Linked DNA regions of Homo sapiens. The protein of the gene in region 1 purifies or fractionates together with the protein of each later gene. This does not show direct contact. Each region holds a gene or a part of one and is shown in the gene's direction. Other genes may lie near its edges.

What was found. The genes of interacting proteins can lie anywhere in the genome.
Region 2: the proteins of WASHC4 (region 1) and ARHGEF1 fractionate together in Homo sapiens (co-fractionation; one large-scale study listed by BioGRID). This does not show direct contact.

What each region holds. Positions count from the first base shown.
Region 1 is NC_000012.12:105,138,731-105,142,230, forward strand, and holds part of WASHC4 (WASH complex subunit 4), read left to right. Parts: intron 1-1,563; coding exon 1,564-1,671; intron 1,672-2,168; coding exon 2,169-2,315; intron 2,316-2,436; coding exon 2,437-2,516; intron 2,517-3,500. UniProt on the Homo sapiens protein: Acts as a component of the WASH core complex that functions as a nucleation-promoting factor (NPF) at the surface of endosomes, where it recruits and activates the Arp2/3 complex to induce actin polymerization, playing a key role in the fission of tubules that serve as transport intermediates during endosome sorting.
Region 2 is NC_000019.10:41,889,684-41,893,183, forward strand, and holds part of ARHGEF1 (rho guanine nucleotide exchange factor 1), read left to right. Parts: intron 1-2,341; coding exon 2,342-2,440; intron 2,441-2,647; coding exon 2,648-2,690; intron 2,691-2,919; coding exon 2,920-3,166; intron 3,167-3,500. UniProt on the Homo sapiens protein: Seems to play a role in the regulation of RhoA GTPase by guanine nucleotide-binding alpha-12 (GNA12) and alpha-13 (GNA13) subunits. Acts as a GTPase-activating protein (GAP) for GNA12 and GNA13, and as guanine nucleotide exchange factor (GEF) for RhoA GTPase.

The sequences.
Region 1 (3,500 bases):
TTTTCTTTGTATGATTTGTTTATAGATATTTTATGTTAGATTTATTTTTTATGAACTATAAATACAGACAAGTATATGTGTATGTTAGAATATGTATAAATATGTAATACATAAGCATGGTTTTAAAAATAATAACCACTGTCCCACTTAAGAAATACCCACTGTCCCACTTAAGAAATAGAATGTTACCAATATTTTCAAATGCTGTGTTTTTTCCTAATTGCATCTCAACCTGTCCACCTCAGAGGAAACTACTGTCCTGAATTTTATGTTTATCATTCTCTTGTTTTTCTTTTTAGCTTGCCAAATATGGATGAATCAATAAAGCATTAATCGTTATATATGTTTTTGAAGTTTATATTAGTGGAGCAGTATTTTATGTATTTTTTGATCCATTTTTTTATTCAACATTTTGTTTTTTACTCAGCATTTTGTATTTGAGGGTATCCATGTTGGGATGAGTAGCACATCTATTTTCATTGTTGTGTAGTGGATAGACTTCGGGTTGTTTCCGGTTTTTGTATCATAAACAATGTTGCCATCCTTGTATGTGTTTCTTGGTGTACTTGTGCAGGAGTTTTTGTAAGGAATTATATACCTAAAGTTGGTTACTGGATTATGTGTTACGTATATGTTCACCTTTTCAAGATGATGTCACATTGTCTCTATAGACAGACTATATATATGTGTGTGTGTATATATATATATATATATATATATATATATATGCCTCCCACAATACATTAGAAAATTACATTAGAAATAAAATTGTATTTCCAATTGACCAACACTGGTATTATCGAGCTTCATTTTTTAAAATAAATTAGTGGGTATAATTGGTTTTATGATTTTTAATATTTAACCCCTGATTGTTAGTGATGGTAAATATCCTTTCAATTATTTATTAACTATGTTTCTTCTTTTGTGAAAAATCTGTTCATGTCTTTTCCATTTTTTTTATTGGATTGTGTGCCTTTAAAAAACAAAATCTTTCATTCATTTTGGGTCTTCTTATATCCTGAACATTAGTCACTTGTACCTGGTAGATATTTTGTGATACATCGGCTTGCCTTTTTATTTTCTTTATAGAGACTTTTGATGAACAGAAGTGCTTAGTTTTAGTATAGTTGAATTTATCAGTTCTATACTTTGTAAGTTTTTTTTTTTTTTTGAGACGGAGTCTTGCTCAGTTGCCCAGGCTGGAGTGCAGTGGCGCCATCTCGGCTCACCTCAACCTCCGCCTCCCAGGTTCAAGCGATTCTGCCTCAGCTACAGGAACTACAGGTGTGCGCCACCATGCCCGGCTAATTTTTGTATTTTTTAGTAGAGACAGGGTTTCACTATGTTGGCCAGGCTGGTCTCGAACTCCTGACCTGGTGATCCACCTGCCTCGACCTCCCAAAGTGCTGGGATTACAGGCGTGAGCCACCACGCCAGGACTGTAAGGTTTTTTTGTATCTCATTTACAAATCCCTTCCCTAGCCTAAGGTCGTAAAGATCTTCTATAATTTTGCCTGAAATTTTTAAGTTGATTGTCAGAAAATTATTTCTGATTCTTTTTAGGCAATAGAGCATATGTTCTACAGGAGAAGCATGGTTGTGGCTGATTCAGTTTCACATATAACACAGCACCTTCAACATCAGGCTCTTCATTCTATTTCTGTGGCCAAGGTATGCAGCTTATTATGTATTTAGCATAAGTATGTTATCTTTTTTGTTTGTTCTTTCATTGTTTTATATGTGTTTTCTGGTTTAACCTGTTTATTCCATTCCTTCAAACATAATATGCTCGGTTATTTATCTCCATAGTATTTTACAATTTTTACTTCAAGTTATTGGCATTATCTTTACTGTGAAATTGCAGCATGTAATACATTAATACACTTCTAAAAAGACATTGCACTTTTGAAATTGATGCATCATTTAAAAAATGATTTCTTAGTAAATTAACATGGAAATTTTAAAGTATGCCTAATACATTTGCTGTTTCTGACAGTACTAAGGGATCATATTACAGAAGTAAAGTATAAATGTCAGAAGCTTAAATGGGGAAAGTATTTGTGTATGCTCTCTTAAATTGAATCATGGAAAAGATAATCAAGAAGTTTTTCTTCTGAGTCTTTTGTTACTGCCTCAGAAACAAATAGTTTTCCTGTTTTATTTTTAAGAAAAGAGTGATTTCTGACAAAAAATACAGCGAACAGCGTCTTGATGTGCTCTCTGCTCTAGTTTTGGCTGAAAACACTCTAAATGGACCAAGCACAAAGCAACGGCGACTTATTGTTTCTTTGGCACTAAGTGTTGGCACACAAATGGTAAGTGTATTGCTATTACTTATGGAACAGAAATGAGATCTGAGATTTCACAGTTCCCTTGTTACTGACCCTAGAAACCTTTGACTGCAACTTCTCTGCCTTTTTTTCCTGTCCCTGATAGAAAACATTTAAAGATGAAGAACTCTTTCCACTTCAAGTAGTCATGAAAAAACTGGATCTTATTAGTGAACTTAGAGAACGGTAAGTAGGACTGGGATATGCTGTGGTACTCCAAAGACAGGGTTAATAGAAACATTGATTTTCTTTTTAGCATAGCAAGAGAAGAAATAAAATTCAGATCGAGCATTAGTTCCTTTCTGTAACTTCTTTAGCATGACCAAAATGAGATTGTGACTAGGGATCATATTTATTTAGCTTTGCTTCTACAGGAAGCATGTAGCCCCTAGAAAAACTCACATGAGAAAAAGCAGTGCAACCTCAGAGCATCTGGCCGACTTTGATGCATATCGTGATTATTATGTTGGGTATCTTTATTGGACTTAAATTGCTGTATTATAACAGGGCTTCCTCTATTTGTGTGAGACTTAGCAATCCATGATACGTAGTGTTCTATGATTTTATTTTAAGACACGAATTTGAATTAACATTGTTGAATTAGTTTTTGGAAGGCTTATTTTTGTAGCTCCTTCTGGCTTTCTTGTTTTCTTTTTGTTGAGTAAGCGTAAATTTCTTGAAGGGAAATTTGAATTTTGGTTTCCAGCTGAATTAAGGTTACAGCACAATTTCCATTTAGTATTCATATTTATAACTTACTTTTTTGTTGTTCTGGAGAAGCTGACATTTTTCTTGTTATTGGCATTTAATTTTCCACTCTTGGAAGAAATATTGAGCCTTTTTCATTATAAGATAGTTAATGATCATTCTGTTGCCCTTTAAGGTGTGAAATAGTCACTTGGCAAAGATTGTAGACATGTTAAGTGTGGGTTTTTTTTTGGGGCGGGGGGGGTCACAATTTTTTTTTTTTAAAAGATTTTTCTTTCCAACTTAGAGTCAGGGAAAATGGAGCATGTGATGCAAGTATTTAAGTCTAGTCATAGCAAATAATATTGAAAATGAGTTTGTTTTTATTTACCAAAACCAAAAATGGTCAATAAATGTTTATTTTAAACTCTGATATTTGAATATTATGCATATCATTTTTCAAGTATGGTTTACAAAAGCATA
Region 2 (3,500 bases), on another chromosome or scaffold:
GAGAAGTGCCCGAGGCATGCAGAAAGAAGAACATGTCAGCTGCAAGACCAGAGGCTGGTCATCCGGACGCCAAACCATCAGATATGCAGAAAATTAGGAAATTGCAGTCTTTCCCCTGTCTACATTCTCTTTCCAGAAGAGTGGTTCCCCCGACAACCACATGCACGGAGACTCTGGCCCTCTGAGCAAGGGAGTCCCCTATTCAAGCCTTGGGGTTTCTAGAACACCAGATTGTGGACATCAGCCCAGGGATCGTGCTGACTACCATGTTCTTTTACAGATGTGGAAACCGAGGCCTAGAGAGGGTCAGGGACTTGCCTGAGGTGACCCCGGCGGCCTCTGGGCATTTTGAGGTTTATTCTCGCATAGCTCCCTCACCTCATCAGCTTGTGGGGAGCCGATCAGAGATAGCTGTGGTCCCCTGGGCAGCTTCCTGTTGGCCTGTCTTAGAATTTTGCTATATTTGGGGGGTGTGAAGAGTGGATATAGATGTGTTAAAACTGTTTAAAGTGGAGAAGGAGGACCGGGCCTGGTGGTTCATGACTGTAGTCCCAACGCTTTGGGAGGCTGAGGCAGGAGGATAGCTTGAGCCTGGGAGGTTGAGGCTGCAGTGATTGCACCACTGCACTCCAGCCTGGGCGACAAGAGTGAAACCCTGTCTTGAAAAAAAAAAAAAAGTGGGGCCGGGCATGGTGGCTCACACCTATAATCCCAGAACTTTGGAGGCTGAGGTGGGTAGATCACTTGAGATCAAGAGTTCGAGACCAGCGTGGCCAACATGGTAAAACCCCGTCTCTACTAAAAATATGAAAATTGGCCAGGCGCAGTGACTCACGCATATAATCCCAGCACTTTGGGAGGCTGAGGCAGGTGGATCACCCGACGTCAGGAGTTCAAGACCAGCCTGGCCAACATGGTGAAATCCCATCTCTACTAAAATAGAAAAATTAGCCAGGCACAGTGGTACACACCTGTAATTCCAGCTACTCGGGAGGCTGAGGCAGGAGACTCACTTGAACCTGGGAGGTGGTGGTTGCAATGAGCCGAGATTGCACCATTGCACTCCAGCCTAGGCGGAAAAAAAAAAAAAAAATTAGCCAGGCCTGGTGGTAGGCACCTGTAATCCAAGCTACTCCAGAGGCTGAGGCAGGAGAATCGCTTGAACCCAGGAGGAGGTTGCAGTGAGCCGAGATCACGCCACTGCACTCCAGCCTGGGTGACAGAGCGAGACTCCATCTCAAAAAAGAAAAAGGAGAAAAAGTCCCACTCCCATTGGAGTGAGTTCATTTCCCAGATGAGAGCCCCCAGGAGCCAGGACAGGTTGGAGTCCCCACTGTCACCCAGAACAGGGGCGGGCACTCAGGAAATGCTTGACGAATGACAGAGTGAGCCCCACTTGTCCACCTGTTCTTTCCAAGCCCTCAGTATGCACAAGGCACCACCATCTGGGACACAGATGGATCAACCTACAACACCCCTCAACACACACAAACCCTTAAGCTGCTCACAGTCTTTCCAGGCAGTGGAGTGTAGTAGAGACAGGCTGCCTGGATTCGAATCCTAACTTTGCCACTTAGTAGCTATGTGATTTTGGGTTTTATTTATTTATTTATTTATGAAACAGTCTCGCTCTGTGTCACCCAGGCTGGAGTGCAGTGGCACAATCTCCACTCACTGCAACCTCCATCTCCTGGGTTCAAGCAGTTCTCCCTGCCTCAGCCTCCCGAGTAGCTGGGATCACAGGTGCCCACCACCACACCCGACTAATTTTTTTATTTTTAGTAGAGACAGGGTTTCGCCATGTTGGCCTGGCCGGTCACAAATTCCTGACCTCATGTGATCCACCTGCCTTGGCCTCCCAAAGTGCTGGGATTACAGGTGTGAGCCACTGTGCCTAGCCTAGTTGTGCGACTAAGCTTGACTAAACTTCTTGAGCTCCGTTTTCTCATCTGTAAAATGGGGATAATGACGGTCCCTATGATTGAACACGTTAATGCATGTAGAGGGTGTAGAGCCGTGTCTGGTATACACTAAGCCGTCAGTATAGACAGTAGTAGTAGTTGTTGTCATTATTGCCGGGAGGAGACCATGATGAAGAACCACAAAGGACCATAGCACAGGATGGAAAATTAGAAAATGCTCATGGCAGCCCCAGGGAGCCTGCAGGGGAACCCAGGGCCTGGCTTTAGGGGTGGAGGTCAGGGAGTGCTTCCCAGAGGAAGTGGCAGTTGAGTCCCACAGCCATAGGATGGCCAGGAGGTGAGGAAGGCCCTTTTCAAAGGGAGAGTGTGGTTTGAGGCAGGGTGAGGGAGCGGAGAGTCATGCTGTGTGTCTCCCCCAGCTTTGCTGTCTGCATGCCGACATGCTGGGCTCACTGGGCCCCAAGGAGGCCAAGAAGGCCTTCCTGGACTTCTACCACAGCTTCCTGGAGAAGACAGCGGTGAGAGACCTTCAAGCTGCCCCAACCCTGCAATCCCTGTTTGGGCCTGCAGAGTCACCATGCGGTCCCCAGCCTCTGCCCTGAGGGCAGCTGCTGACCCAGGCCTTCCCCAGCACCCTCGCTTAGACCAGGGTTCCTGGCAGTCCTCCCGGCCTGCATCTCAGCACACCAAGTCCTCCTCTTCACCCCATTCTCTCTCTTGAGCAGGTTCTCCGGGTGCCGGTCCCTCCCAACGTCGCCTTTGAACTTGGTAAGGAGAAGGATGGGATGAGGGAGAGGTGTCTAGCGGGGACCACACCTCCCAGGAGGCCAAGGGGAGGGAGGCCGCACTCCCATGCTCTGCTCGGACAGCCGAGATTCATTCATTCCTTCTTGGCAGCGGCCTCAGGACGTGTGGCTGTTGGAGTCCAAGGGTGGGTGGGGACCGTGGTCCAAGCCACCAGGGAGCTGGACCCTAGCCCCCATGTGTGTCCCTGCAGACCGCACTAGGGCTGACCTCATCTCCGAGGATGTCCAGCGGCGGTTCGTGCAGGAGGTGGTGCAAAGCCAGCAGGTAGCCGTGGGCCGGCAGCTGGAGGACTTCCGTTCCAAGCGGCTCATGGGCATGACGCCCTGGGAGCAGGAGCTGGCCCAGCTGGAGGCTTGGGTTGGGCGGGACCGAGCCAGCTACGAGGCCCGGGAGCGGCACGTGGCGGAGCGGCTGCTCATGCACCTGGAGGAGATGCAGTGAGTAGGCCAGCCCTGGTGGGAGCGTCGCCCCTCCCCAGCACAAGGGCACCCGTGCTACCTCTGGCATGTTCCATCCCGTTTGCAGGTTCCCTCTTCAGGGTCAGAGTTCATTTCTTGGCACTGGGGGTCTTCCTCTACCCTGGTGTTTTAACTCACCTTGAATCCGAGTCTTCCCTTTCCAGCTTTGGGGTTCCCTTGTCATTTCTGGGTCTTGTCCATGATCTGGCACTTGGATCCCATCCTCCTGGATGAGAGACCTCCCTCCCTCTTATGACAGTCCTTCCCAATCCCTTCCACAGTGTCCCCTCTCTGTCTCTCTTCCCCCTGCCTA